Homo sapiens: one gene and its partner. The protein of the gene in region 1 interacts with the protein of each later gene in a pairwise test. Each region holds a gene or a part of one and is shown in the gene's direction. Other genes may lie near its edges.

The links.
Region 2: the proteins of CETN1 (region 1) and POC5 interact in binary tests that used the Homo sapiens proteins (3 or more experiments, as listed by UniProt).

Annotation. Positions count from the first base shown.
Region 1 is NC_000018.10:575,420-583,051, forward strand, and holds CETN1 (centrin-1), read left to right. Parts: upstream 1-4,960; 5' UTR 4,961-4,989; coding exon 4,990-5,508; 3' UTR 5,509-6,695; downstream 6,696-7,632. UniProt on the Homo sapiens protein: Plays a fundamental role in microtubule-organizing center structure and function. Plays a role in sperm cilia formation.
Region 2 is NC_000005.10:75,707,008-75,714,966, reverse strand, and holds part of POC5 (centrosomal protein POC5), read left to right. Parts: intron 1-2,015; 5' UTR 2,016-2,029; coding exon 2,030-2,113; intron 2,114-2,306; exon of another isoform or gene 2,307-2,360; intron 2,361-2,534; exon of another isoform or gene 2,535-2,582; coding exon of another isoform or gene 2,583-2,591; intron 2,592-7,091; coding exon 7,092-7,230; intron 7,231-7,959. UniProt on the Homo sapiens protein: Essential for the assembly of the distal half of centrioles, required for centriole elongation. Acts as a negative regulator of centriole elongation.

The DNA of each region.
Region 1 (7,632 bases):
CAAAGGCATTTTGCCCAGATTGCTTTCCCCAGCTCATATACAGAGTTGAAAGCAGGGAATGGGGTGAAGTGGAATGGAGGAAGAACAGATGTAAATACTAAGCATATTGCAGGTTCAGTGACTCGCCCCAGAATGGGACCCTGTCTTAGATCCTACAAATTCCTGTTCAATCCTTCTAGGCAAGATGCTTAATTATTGTTATGTGTAGGGAAGAAAATTGTTAGCAGCAGAAGGTATCCGAGTCACGTGGCACCAAAATGTATCACTAGTAGCGAATATCCAAGTTACCTTAATAGAATCCGTATGGGTCTGCAGCAACCTCAATTCCTACATCCTCAGAAGAAAGAATTCAACTCAGGGTCATACGGCAGAAAAAGAGACTGAGGCAAGTTTCAGAGCGTTTATTAAAACGCTTTAGAGCAGGAACATAAGGCAAGTGATACTGGAGACAGAAATTATTTTAAGCAGATAATGAGGGCAAAAGAGTCCTCGGCAGAACTTCCCTGCTAACAAAGAACAGCCCAAGAAATCCCTTCTTTTCTAACAAAGAGCAGCCTGGGAGATCGGGCTGCAAACATAGATAAGGAAGCTGGAAACTTGCACGAGGGGATGCCAGAAGCTGCACAGTTAGAAAGAGGTACCTGGGGCCAGGAATGTCCACCCTGGGGGCTCCACCTCCCCTCTATTTTTAGCACATGCACAGTAAGAAGGAAATAAGCGGCCGGGCCCGGTGGCTCACGCCTGTAATCCCAGCACTCTGGGAGGCCGAGGCAGGCGGATCACAAGGTCAGGAGTTTGAGACCAGCCTGACCAACATGGTGAAACCCCGTCTCCACTAAAAATACAAAAATTAGCCGGGCGTGGTGACGCACACCTGTAATCCCAGCTACTTAGGAGGCTGAAGCAGGAGAATCGCTTGAACCTGGGAGGCGGAGGTTGCAGTGAGCCCAGATCTCACCACTGCACTCCAGCCTGGGTGACAGAGTGAGACTCCTACTCAAAAAAAGAAAGAAAGAGAGAGAGAGAGAGGAAGGAAGGAAGGAAGGAAGGAAGGAAGGAAGGAAGGAAGGAAGGAAGGAAGAAGTAACATGGAGTATCTAGCCACGGGCATAATAAAAGACTGGGGTGGGGGCTGCCAGAGATTCGTGCCCTATGCAGATGGCACACCCGGTCCTAACCAGTTTTTCATGCCCTTTGTAGGTCAGACACCGCCTCCCCACTAGCTCATCTATAAAACCCCCTGCATTTAACCACGGATCGGCAACTCCTTTTCTCGGGACCCTTCTCTGGGGCAGAGAGCTATTCTCCTTCTTTCACCTATTAAAATTCTGCTCGAAACCTCACCCTTTGTGTGTTTCCACATCCTTTACCTCCGTGGCCGTGAGACCGAGAACCTTGGGTGTCACCCCAGGCAACAAGGCCACTTCACAAGTACACCTGGAAGAGAGCCAATGGACGCCCTGGAGGTCAAGTGCCCCGTTTGATCTTGAACCTAGGATTTTATACGCTGGCCTACTTCCCGCATCTTGTGCCCCTTTCCCTTATTCTTCTCTTAAGGTGAACCGCCCACATGCATAGTGCCCTGCTTGGGATTGGGAGGTGAGCATGGGCAGTGTGTTTAAGAAGTTGTATGCGTGATCACCTGAGGCTTTCTTCCCCTTTTCCAGTGGAACGCCCCTAGAAGGTCATACGCTGCCATTTTGTCTCTTAATGCGCATGCTCAAGCCCACTGGCCCAATTCCTGAGATCTTATTGGAAGCTGCCGACTACCAATTTCAAGTGTATTCATCTGTTGGGAAACTGCCTCTCCCTGTTGTGGCCATGATCAATGATCATTTTAGAGAGGCAGTGTGACAACTGCCAAACCATCCCCTGATCATCACCTGACATTCCTGGCGGGTTGGGAGGGGAGCCCTTCTCTGCCCCGCTCATGCCTGACTAGCTACCTACTGTAACAAAATCTGTATCATGTCTTCCCAGTGATTCTATATTTTGGTAATATAGAATCAACTTGTGGAGAAGGCAGCATGATGTAGTGAACAAAGCTTCAGCAGGCCAGGATTTAAATCCCAGAGCCACCATTTATTGGCCATGTACCATTAAATATGTGTTACAGGCCTCTCCTGGGCCTCATTTTTTTCATCTGCAAAATAGGAAATGATGGCAAGGATCAAATAAGATGACAACTATGAGAAGCACGCCCAAAGCTAGGCACACATTAAATGTGTTTCCCTTCCCTTCTTAAGTCAGAGTTTGGACTCTGAACATAATGTAACTCCCCACCAAGAGCTGACTGTGACTATGGGCACTGTTTCTATGAAGGGAGCTCTTGGTGGCCCTTTGTTGTAACTGTTGATTGCACACATCTGGAAACCATGACAACCGTTTTGCTTTTAGTTCAGCTTGGCCCAAATGTAGCTCTATATAAGGCAGCTTCCATACTTCAGTTTTTCCCAACACATCATAGCTTGGCTTGAATTTGGGCAGAAGGGTGGGTGCCAAAGGAAATGTACAATGTCTGAGAAAAATTCTTATTCAACTAACAATTACCCAGATCTGTATGGCCCCACTAGGGCACTGTTCCTGGAGCTTTTGTGTACATTCTCCCACTGAAAATGCAGTGGGAAGCTTTATGATGATGCCTACTTTGCAGGTGTTTCGATGACTCTGGGTGGTTTAAGTGACTTTCCAAAGTCACAGAGATAATAAGGCATAGACTTGGGATAAGATCCCAGGCTTCTGACATGGAAAAAAGCAGGTCACAAGGATTTGCGGTGTTAGAAGAACAGCAGCTGTAGTGTCTGCCTGCCAGTGTGCCTTGAGTTGACACTGTCCACAACAAGTACTGGAAGGCAGGAGAGGGGAGGTCCTATGTAAGTTTCCTTGGCCTTTAGAAGAAACCCTGTGTCCAGGCTCTCTGTCAACTAAGTCACATATCGAACTGGGGCAGGTAGTGATATATGGCTAATTAAATGTGCCATGTAAACAATATCTGACCACTAATTTTAAAAAACAGTTTGTAAAACATTCCTGGCATCATTTAATCTTTTGGGGTTTTCACTTGTTGTATTCAGAAGGTATTTTAGGACCAACCTTAATTGTCATGCATTCATTCAACGAATATTTATTAACCTACCTACTGTGTTGTATCCAGCACTGTTTTGTTTTGTTGTTGTTTGTTTTTTTGGGGACAGAATCTCACTCTGTTGCCTAGGGTGGAGTGCAGGGGCACAATATCTGCTCACTGCAACCTCCGCCTCCTGGGTTCAAGCGATTCCCGTGCCTCATACTCCCAAGTAGCTGGGATTACAGTTGTGCGCAGCAACTCTCAGCTAATTTTCGTATTTTTCATAGAGACAGGGTTTCACCTTGTTGGCCAGGCTGGTCTTGAACTCCTGACCTCAGGTGATCCTCCCGCCTTGGCCTCCCAAATTACTGGGATTACAGGTGTGACCCACTGCACCCAGCCATAAAACTCTTTAACACAAACTCTTCAAAGTGACATCTTTTGTAACCTTCATAGGTTACAAAAGGTATTGATATATTAATAGATTGAGATTTGATTGCGGGGGGGCGGGGCAGGGGGAGAATGCTAAAAAAATAAGTCAGCTTTCTTTTCTGTAACTATTTAAAAGAATGCAAAGTAATTCTACAGGCAATTCCTTGGTGGGCTTATTTGGTAATTTTTTTTTTCTTTTCCATTTTCCTCTTGCTCTTTGGTTTGTAGGAGAACCGCTTTATTCCCAGGAGGCAATTTTGAGTCCCAACATGTCCTGCATCATCTCCTGTGCCCATTGCCAAAGGAAGGCGACCAGAGCGTGGGTTTCAGCACAGCTCTGATTGGATGATAAGCAAGGAGAGTAATGTGCTGCTAGGAGGTTAGAGAAAAGAAAATACTAGAATATACCAGAATGTAGTATTTCCACTTCCCTCCCTCCAAATCAAAAGCCTCATGAATGAAATTATGACCATTATTCAAGTGCAATTATACTGAGTATGTAAAATGGAAACACTGAAAGTAAATCATACATTTGGATATTACATTTCATATTTGAGAACATGCCAGAAACATTGTATTATTGTTGAGTGTAATGTCAGGAGACAAACTTCTACGCATTTTATACATAAATTTTTCCATTTTCTCTGTTTCCCATTTATGTCAAGTTGAACACATGGTATGACTTTTAATATTCTCTCTTCCTTCTCCTTCCCCACATTGAATGTCAAGTGATCACACTCAATCTTGATTATCCTAAATTTACCCTTAGGACCTGTCACCTCATTGGGTGTTGCCGCTAGAACAAGAGGGTTTTTTAAATGGTATAAAAAGGAGAGGCCCGGCTTGGTAGCTCATGCCTGTAATTCTAGCACTTTGGGAGGCTGGGGCGGGAAATCCCTTGATCCCAGGAGTTTCAGACCAGCCTGGGCAACATGGTGAGACTCTGTCTCTATAAAAAAAAAAATTTTTTTTTTTAATTTAGCTGGGTGTGGTGGCATGCCCTGTAGTCTCAGCTACTATGGAGGCTGAGGTGGGAGGATCACTTGATCCTGGAAGGTGGAGGCTGCAGTAAGCTGAGTGGCACCAGTGCACTCCTGTCAAAAGAGAGAGAGGAGAGAGAGAGAGAGAGAGAGGAAGAGTCCCTAAAGAAACCTATAAAACTGGGGTCTTATGGATGCTAGCACATATCTTGGAAAGAACTGCCAGCGCCAGTGGATTACAGAAGACAACTGTGGCTACAGGCTGTTCTTGCCAGCTCAGGCGTCAACTCGTGGAAACCGGTTAATGACCCGAGGGGACAGCGGATTCTCGCCTAAGCAAGATCCCGCAGATGGGAGGGCGTAGGAAGAGGTTCCCCGGGCCGGCTCCAGGCCCCAGCGGGCGTGGGCGTTGGCAGTGAGCGAGGGGTGGTCCCGCGCCGCGCCGGCGGGGGGCGCCCGAATGAGAGCGCGGGGCGGTGCCGTTGGGACCACGGCGGCCAGAGCGGCAGGATGGCTTCCGGCTTCAAGAAGCCCAGCGCTGCCTCCACCGGCCAAAAGAGAAAGGTGGCACCTAAGCCCGAGCTCACTGAGGATCAGAAGCAAGAAGTTCGGGAAGCATTTGACCTCTTCGACGTGGACGGAAGTGGGACCATCGACGCGAAGGAGCTGAAGGTGGCCATGAGAGCGCTGGGCTTCGAACCCAGGAAGGAAGAGATGAAGAAAATGATCTCCGAGGTGGACAGGGAAGGCACGGGGAAGATCAGCTTCAATGACTTCCTGGCCGTGATGACGCAGAAGATGTCCGAGAAGGACACCAAAGAAGAAATCCTGAAGGCCTTCAGGCTCTTTGATGACGATGAGACCGGGAAGATCTCGTTCAAAAACCTGAAGCGTGTGGCCAACGAGCTGGGGGAGAACCTCACGGATGAGGAGCTGCAGGAGATGATCGACGAAGCTGATCGGGATGGGGACGGCGAAGTGAACGAGGAGGAGTTCCTTCGGATCATGAAGAAGACCAGCCTTTACTGAAGTCGGTTCAGAAGCTAAAGTGACTCTCTGGGTTGCCTGCTTCCATTTTGTGAAACCTTAGAGGACAGCGGCTGCCTGTCCCTTCTTCACCCCCTCACCCCCATAATTTGTCTAGATCTATTTCCATATCTCTAGTTCAATAATAGAATTTGAAAGATGCTTGTAATGTGAGTTTTGGGTTTTAATTCTCAAGAGTCAACCTGGAGCACATGAGGTTAAACAAAGGGCCCTGAAGTTTGAGTGCGCCCTCCATTTGCCCTGTGCTGAACTTGCTGTTCATCTGTTGATCTGGAGGCAGGACAGCTTCTGGGACACACAAAAATGTGGTTCCCTTTGTCACTTCTTTGGTGGTCTTAAATTATCTTGCTTCATATATCATTCCTTAAATTCCAGTCATTGTTCCAGCATAATGAGATGGAATCTGCCAGTAGATTTGCCTAGCCTGTCCACTTAGCTGAATACCAGTTTGAAGGAAAACAGGGTGGCCACTTACAAACTTACGGAGCTCAGGACAGATAATCTTATAAAGAATAGACTTGCTTGGGTGGTAGTACGTTGTGCAATTTTGACTATTCACTGGCTTTATACCTGCAAATGATTCTTCGTTCATGTGTAAATTGTCCACCATGGGTTTATCTAGGGCTAGTATGTATACCTGGGCTACAGAATAAAAATAAAATCTAATACTGGCCCAAGCAAAGTATAATTTGCTTAAGAGGTTACGCTAACAAACGATTTTGAGTAAATATTTACAAATGTAGGATCTTAGTTTAGGAAATTATAACAAATACCTTAATATAACATTTTAAGCTACTTATAGTCCTTGGAAATAGCAACAAATATCTTAGTTATTGGACTATTATAACCTTAGTCATCTTATTACTGCTTGATTATGAGACACTCTCCCTGCTAATCCTTAGAACATCTTGGTTCTTGGTACTTGACTTTTAGCCCCTCTGACATATAGTTGATGTCAGAGTGTCTGGCATTTCAGTAGTGCTCTATTTTACAAATCCCAGTAAACTGCTCCACTGTGGCTTGTTTATGTGTTAATACTGCTTGTTTTCTGTTATAAATTATTTTTTGCTTTGGAGTAAGATATCATCATTTTGCATAGCTACAAATCTGAAGTTAAAGAAAATTTTAAAAATGTAATTGTGGGAAAATAACAAATAGATCTGCTGAGATGGAGGCTTTGACTAATGTTTTAATAACAGGCAACAAAACAAAGAGGCAGGATATTTTGGTCACAACTAAACCTAAATTAAATCCTCATACAAAGCCCCATTAAGATAAATGCTCAAATTCTGGGAACATTTCACTTGCTTTGCCAGCAATTTTACCCTTCAGAGGGTGTGGATCTAATCAGGGGAACAAACTACCCTGGGCTTAATTCTCATTAACAGGGACTAATTTGTCAAAGCGGCAGTACTAGCTGAAGTGATGGGTATGGAAGCATTCACTGTGAGGATTTTGCTGAGGTGCCTGGCACAGGGTAGGGGAACTCACCCAGGCTGCAAGATGCTAACAGTTCAGGTTCAAGGTCTTAGTGTGGACTAAGGTGCAGTCAGGATGGGAACAGGTGCAACTTGGGCCAACATCAGTATGAAGGGCCTGATCTGAGGGCAGGGGAAGGAGGGGGCATTCTGGGAAGCAAGAGTTCCTGGTATCCTGTTGACCAGAGTCTTGGCCCAAGGATCAACGTATGAATTAAAGTAGAAATACCAGAAACAAAGAAAGTTGGCAGAAACTAGGAGAAGCAGAGTCTCAGCCAACTGGACTGGGCTCAGCCTTGGCTACTGGCCCGGCAGATGATAGAAGAGAAAACCAGGAACCCAGGCTGAAGCCCAGTGGTTGGGCTGGCCACACACCATGCATAGCCTTAAAGGGGTGGCCTAAGGGCATGGTCCGCTCCAAAAAAGGAAAGGGGGCCCCAGAATATTTCTGAATCCCACTCACTGCCAGGGAAGAACCTCTCAATTCACTCAATAGTGCATTCTCCTGCTTCTCAATAGGCTAATACTCTAGAGAATATGGGGACAAGGGGAGGAGGGTCTAGTGGAACAGGTCTAAACTGGCGTTTGAATTTTAAGATAAGTTAATCATACATTGGCTGGGTCAGCC
Region 2 (7,959 bases), on another chromosome or scaffold:
CTCACATTCCTTTTTTATAGGTGGTCTCATCCATTCCCTTTTTTCAGCAGTTCCCATTATGCCAGTGATTCCTCAAACTGGATCTCCAACTTATACCTCCAGTGCGGCGCTCCCACAATGCTTAACTCCAGGAAACACCATTCACAGTGTAGCCATTGTGAATGGCAGTTCTTGGAGTAGCGCACTACGTAGCCAGTGTGACCACAGACTGCATACTTGCAGCTTTACCCTAGTGCCTCAGAGGCATCCTCACACCCAGCTCATCTGATATGGCACTCATTGTCCTTCCTCCCAACCTGCTCATCTTCCTACCTTCCTTGCCTTGGTGAGTGGCACTATCCATCTAGTTACCCAAACCGGAGATCTGGAAGCCACCAACAGTTCTTTTTAACCCCTTGATCTATTATTGATCATTTTCTCTTTCCATCACCATAACACAACTGTCTTGTAGTCATACCCTCCATCCCCTTCCCATTGCTACTTCCTAGACTTAGGTCATCATTTATCTTCTTAATTACTATCAAAGAGAACATTTATCTCTTAGACTACTGCAGTCAGCTCTCAATTGATCTCTCTCTCTTTTTTTTTTGAGACGGAGTCTCTGTCACCCAGGCTGGAGTGCAGTGGTGCGATCTTGGCTCACTGCAGCCTCCACCCCCAGGGTTCTAGCTATTCTCCTGCCTCAGCCTCCCAAGTAGCTGGGATTACAGGCACCTGCCACCAGGCTCGGCTAATTGTTTTGTATTTTTAATAGAGACAGGGTTTCGCCATGTTGGCCAGGCTGGTCTCAAACTCCTGACCTCAGGTGATCCACCTACCTCAGCCTCCCAAAGTGCTAGGATTACAGGCATGATTCACTGCACCCAGCCTGATCTCTCTTAATATCCAAATTCATCCTCAACGCTGCTGGAATGATCTTTCTGATCATGTAACTTTTAAAAAATATTTCAATAACTTGTCTAGAATAAACACCCAGATTTTTAATATGACAAGTTTTGACCTTCCATGATCTGGCTGCTCCTTACTTTTTGTTTCATCCTTAGCCAATCCTTTGCACCCATTGCTTTGTCCTTACCAAACTGCTTGCTGTTCGTGGCATACATGTCCATGGCTCTGTCTTTGCTTATATTGCTCTACTGCCTAGAATATCTACACCTGTGTTTATACCTTTTATCCATCTTTCAGGATGAGACCTACTCATCTTTCAGATCTCAACACCTGGGTCATCTTCTCTAAAAACTTTCTGTGCCTCCTTTCCTGCTTATTTACAGTCATGCAATCTTACCCCATGAAAAATAGCTACTCCTATCTCTCTACTTTGTATCTGTTATTTTAGGGCCTATCAGCAGTTTATTCATCAGTCGGTCACTTATATAATATACATGCCTGGCCCTCTCTACAGATTGTAAACTCCTTAAGAATGAGGACTTCATTTTACATTCCTCACCAATGTCTTACATATTACTGGTATTCAGATAGTTCGAATAGTCACTATTTGTTCTTTGAATAATTCGGTTACTTGTTACTAAAAGTACTTTTAATGATTTTTTGATTAGGACTTTCAACAAATTCTCTATGCATATATTTGATTCTGTTGTTCTGTATAAGCTCACTTTTCTTAAAATAATATTTCCAAAGGTAAGTTTCCCAAGAAGGGAATTTGCACAAATTGTTTGTTCTCTCTTGGTTCTGTGTCTTAGAGGAAAGTACACAGCACCCAGGTTGTCACACATTGCTCAAGAACAGTGATCACAATCTATTATGCTCAACAGGCCCCGCTGGGGATTTTTCTGAAGACCTGACTACGTTATAAACTCACTAATATTGGGACTGGGTCTTCAACTGTTTTTTGCCCAGTGATTTTTTGCCTGTAGGTACTCAATATGTTGAATGAATGATTTTAGCATATCACAGGAAGATTGCAGATTTGGATACTGTTGCACTTATATATATCTGGAAAGGATTTTATCTTAAATATCAAGGAAAAAAGCTAAAGTTAGCTTCTACTGTTTTAGAGCATTTGTGCAGAATGTCATCAGATGAGGAGAAATACTCACTTCCAGTTGTGCAAAATGACTCCAGTCGAGGCAGTTCTGTCTCTTCGAATCTTCAGGTAGGAAAAAATTTCTAAATTTACCATGACTTTTTTTATTTTAAACAAATGAATGTAAGGGAAAACTAGGATTTTTTAATAATTTTTTCATCCATTTACAAGGGAGTTTTTCAATTTATAATAATATCAAACTTCAGGAATTACTGTACACATTTTAGGAGTGACTTTACATTGTTTTAACTTTTCAGAAAATATTGATGAACTCTTCATACACTCTGTACAAAGGCTTCAACCAACACAGTAAGAGGTGAAACAAATGTTCAAGAAACATTTTTTTGTTTAAATTTTTTTCATTTTAGCTACCTCTCATGAATGCTACTTTCACTTTTAATGCAAATTAATACAATATCAAACCATCCAAAGTTCTAGAGCTCAAGATTCCCTTGTGTTCTACTTGCTGAGGTTTGGTCTCTGTTGTCACAACATTCAGTACAATCTGCTGCCCAGGACCTGGACATTGACAGATAAAATGAAGTGGGTCAGTTAACTACAGAGGGTGTGGTATTTACATGAAATGTTTTAAATTTCTCTTATTTCTAAATATTTCATCATCAAAAATATGGATTTAGATTTCTGGAGTAGATTTTAAATATGAGAATAATGACATGGTATATCTTAAATTTTACAGTTGTATTACTCAAGGGGAAAGGCTGTTTATGCCTAAGCATATGAAATTGTTATTGATTCTGTACGATATGAGAAAAGCTTTAGGAAAATATTTTATGAAACAAATTTGTTCCTTTAATCGAAATTATGGATTTCAAAATGGGGAAGGTATTGGGAAAATATCTGAATATTTACAGGATAAAACTAGTCTGGAGTTGTGGCAGAGCTTTTGCACCCTAGCCTTCCCTTTTGATGGTACCTGTCCCATGTAGTCCTCTCTTCAGGTGACAGTACTTCCTCCACCCTTCATCGCTGTCTGATTGAAACTTGAAGATAGAACTGATTAACTCATTTATACTAAAATGTAAACACCTTGTGAGCTCTCAAATTTCATTTCGTGAAGAGATAAAGCTTTAAATCAAAAGAATAACTCTCTAGAGTGGAATTTTAGAGAGACGGAAGAAGAACCTGCCAGAAATTATTTTGTGTTATTGTTTACCCACCTATAATGTAAGCTCAACTGAGAGTCTATTACTGTCAACTAATGTTCCTACTGGTTCTTGGACTGAAGTTGAAAGCCTCTCCATATTCCCTGTACATACAGTGTTATTACTTTGGGTTTCACTACTGGAAGCACTTCAAAATATAAATACAAAAAAAAATCTTAAAAATAACATAAAATACACATTTTTACATATGTAGTAAATATGTAAATCCAAACATTTAATACAAAAGCCCCTCATAAATAAATATTCCTCTTAAGGAACTTTTTTGTTACTCTCTTTTTATGCGAATGCTTCATAAGCCAGAAGGTGGTAAATGCTGAGGGATGGGCAGCATCCATAGTGCTTATACACTGAAAATTTCCTCTAACCACAGCTCCTATCAGCCAAGTTGCTCTGACTCTAATGGTTGAGGCATGGGTGGAGCTATATTTCAGGGTCATATCAATTCAGCTCTTGGGGGTTGGGGAGGGGGGCAAAATTACAAGTTTTGAATGTTAACAGAGGTTATGTTTGGCAATTAAGAAAGCCAATATTGTTTATTTTGATTCTTAATTTTAAATTTTATTTTTAAATAACTTATTTGGCTTGTGTCTACATATATGAAACTCTAAAATAGTCATTTAAATAACTGATTTTTTCTAAATGTTTTCTTGAAATAAGTTGGAATATATGGTCATGGAATACTATTGACATATACTTATTTATTTCCCCTTTAAGCCATAGCAATTGTGGTAAAATATATGAAATATATGAATATGTATGAAGTATATGATTTGAAATATGTGTTTGGATCTTTTTTTTCCTTCTCTTATCCAGAGCAGAAGTCAGACTAGGGAAGCCACAAGTGAAAGCCACTGACTTCCACTTCTCCCTCCGTTCCTACATGCTAGAGGTGGTGATAGGCTAACTCTGAGTAGAGCTGACTTGGCTAAATCTAGTTGCAACTGACACCACAGCAGGAACACTATAAAAAGTTTATGAACCTCACAATATAAGATCACCATCATATTAATCTGCTCAGGCTACCATAACAAAGTACCATAAATTCATAGGCTTAAACAACAGACATTTATCTTCTCACAGTTCTGGAGGCTAGAAGTCCCAGATCACAGCCCAAAAGGGTCAGTTTCTGGTGAGGGCTCTCTTTGTGGATTGCAGACAGGTGCCTTCTTGCTGTATCTTTGCATGGCCTTTCCTCAGTACAGTATGTGCAGGTGGGAGGAGAGCATGCACAAGGTTCCTGGTGTCTCTTCTGATGAGTACATTAATGCTCTCAGGGCCCCAACCAATGACCTTATTTAACCTTAATTACTTTCTTGAAGGCCTCATCTCCAAATACAGCCACACTGGGTGTTAGGGCTTCAGCATATGAATTTTGAGGGGACACAAACATTCAGACTCCGTAACTCCATAACAGCCACACTTTTATATATTCTTAGCCAAAATCAAAAGTATATTTTGGGTGTTTGGGAAGTATAATAGTGCTTTAACAGAAACCAAGTAAGGGTGGTTTAAGTGGGTTCCTTACAGTTTCATTCTGTCTCTCATAAATTCTGAGCTGATACGTAGTCCTGAGATCATCTGAGGACCCAATCCCTTCTCTCTTTTTGCTGTACCATGAGCTGTTGACCGTGTTTGCATTGTCAGGTACTGGTGCACTGACAGTGTACTACCACTAGCCCATGGGAAGAGGGGACCAGCAGGAAGCAGCTTCGTTTTTAAGGACTTCACCTAAAGTTGTACACATCATTTCCAGTTGAATCCCATAGACCAGGTCTCTTGGCCACACCTAGCTGCAGAGGAGGCTGGGAAATGTAGCTGGGTGGCCATTTGCCCAAATCAAACCCTGGGGCTTTATTAAGTTAAAGAAATTAAAAAGAAATGGATGCTGCTGGATTAGTTACAGTCTCTATGCACTTGAAATTTTATGTATTAGTTTATTAGGACCAACACACACATTCAGGTTTATAGGAACTAGTAAATATCTTGTGCATGGCCCCAATTTATTAAGCTCTTTGGGAATTTCTTTTTGATAATTAGAAAACCAATATGCTTTGGGAAGTGTATTTTTTTTAACCTAAGGATATTTAAATCTATTTAAATAATCATAGTTACTTTTGTCAATGTAAAAATTAAATGTTGGTGCTCGCTTCAGCAGCACATATACTAAAACTGGAGCCACACAGAAAATTAGCATGGACCCTGTGCAAGGAGGACATGCAAATTTGTGAAATGTTCTATAATTTTTTAATAATTTTTTTAAGTTTTATAATATAAAAAAAGTTGTATTGTGATATCCTAAATGATTTGTTTCCTAATAAGAGCCTTCTGTCTCAGTGATAACCATTATGTAAAATACTGATTTTTATTTGCTACTAGGAAATGTAAGTTTAAAACTCAGACAGATGTTTATTCTCATGAAGGTGACATCACTAACAAAAATGGTTGATTATAGCAATATGAAGGAGATTCTGGTTGAATTTTCTAAAGATTTTCTCTTTGAAATATCTCTCTCTTCCTCTTCTGTCGTTAGCCTTAAAATATATAAAAATCAGTATTTGCTATACCTAATGTTTACTGCGTGTAAGTATCTATGTTAAATATGTGAATCAGGCCGGGTGCAGTGGCTCACGCCTGTAATCCTAGCACTTTGGGGGTCCAGGGCTGTGGATCAAGAGGTCAGGAGTTCAAGACCAGCCTGACCAACATGGTGAAACCCCATCTCTACTAAAAGTACAAAAATTAGGTGGGCGTGGTGGTACAAACCTGTAATTCCAGATACTCAGGAGGCTGAGGCAGGAGAATCGCTTGAACCTGGGAGGCAGAGGTTGCGGTGAGCCAAGACCATGCCACTGCACTCCAGCCTGGGCTACAGAGCAAGACTCCATCTCAAAAAAAAAGAAGAAAAAAATTGTAAATCAAGAAATCAAGGTTGAAGCGCAAACCAGGTCACTCTTGTACATGTAATTGCCATAAAAGCTAGCAGTTTTCAAATATATAAAAGCATAAGCTTTTTTAAAAAACAATTTTACTTAAAATTCCGATATAAAAAAGCAGATGAAAACAAAACTACAGTAGTATAGATTTATTTTGTAAATTCAAATGCAATCAGTTAATAAAAACAGTTAAGCTGCCTTGATAAATGTACATTTGAAATTGGGGGGTAATAGAAGGCCATTGCAGTTTTATAAACTTAAGTATCCAGTTTGCTTCTATATTTTGTTTAGGTTACATAATTTTTTTTCAGTTCCAAAAATGGTATCTTTTTAATAGCATGTCTCATCTTCAATTAAACCAATCTGACATATAAAATTAAGTGATAGAAAATTTTTGATTCAGTGTTGAGTCACTCACAGAACCTTATCACCTCTTCATACTTTGTTGTTGTTTCCCCAGAGACAGGATCTTGCTCTGTCACCCAGGCTGGGGTGCAGTGGTGCCATCTTGTCTTACTGCAGCTTCCAGTTCCTAGGCTTAAGTGGTCCTCCTGCCTCAGCCTCCTGAGTAGCTACAACTACAGGCACACACCACCACACCTAGCAAATTTTTGTAAAAAATTTATTGTAGAGATGAGGTCTCACTTTGTTGCTCAGGCTTCAAGCCATCCTCCTGCCTCAGCCTCTCAAAGTGCTGAGTTTACAGGCATGAGTCACTGCACCCAGCCCTCTTCAAACTGTTAATCATAAATATAAAAATCACACAAGAAGCACTCGAGGAACTCAAGCTTGGAATAAGTGGTAAAACTTTGTAATATAATAAGCATGGGACTCTATTATGGTAATTAAATTTCTTTAAAACAAATTCAGTTGAATATATTATAACATTGTAACTGTTACACTACATTATTGATTATTGGCCTCTCTTAGGAAGAATATGAAGAACTGCTTCATTATGCTATAGTGACTCCAAATATTGAACCCTGTGCTTCACAGTCATCTCATCCTAAGGGAGAATTGGTGCCAGATGTCAGAATTTCTACAATTCATGATATTCTTCATAGTCAAGGTTATATATATTTTTCAAGATATCTCTTAATTTAAAATATTACTGAGTTTATTAATGATACTGACAGGATTGTGAAAATGCCTGTCCAGATCAGTGATTCTTCTCAACCATTTATGTGTATTAGTATCATCTAGGGGAGCTTTTTACATTTTAATATATTATTCCTGACTCTCGTGTGACAGCTTGATTTTTCTTTGAACTTCATTTGACTCTTACTTTTATGAAGAATAATAAAGTTGAAGCAATGCTATGGCAACTGCATGGCTTTTTGGTATGTTGTATCTCAGTACTTGTTCCAACAGTTTTATGCCAGGATTAACCTGAAAACTAAATGCCCAAGACTAAAATTAAAGATGGTAACCCTGAGAGTCTCTTAAATTACTTTACAAACCTCATGCTAGTGCTTTATCAGCAGTATTTATATGGGCATGGAGGACTGTTTGAATAATTATCACAAGGTGAACCCATCTGTGGACCATGTCAGCAACAGAACTGAAAGCTACTATAAACCAGGATGTGTGTTGATAGATGAGTGAAAAGTGGAGAAAAGAGGATAAAGCTCCTTTTACCTCCATTCCTTATTCAGGTGAAGACAACATCCCAAACTCTAAATAAATGTTCTTTCAAAGGGCACAGAAAGCCTTCCTAAAACAGTCCTGATAAGGACCAGTTATCACACTATAGGCGTAACTCCAAGGATCCCTGTCCTTGAAGGCGCATGACATAGCC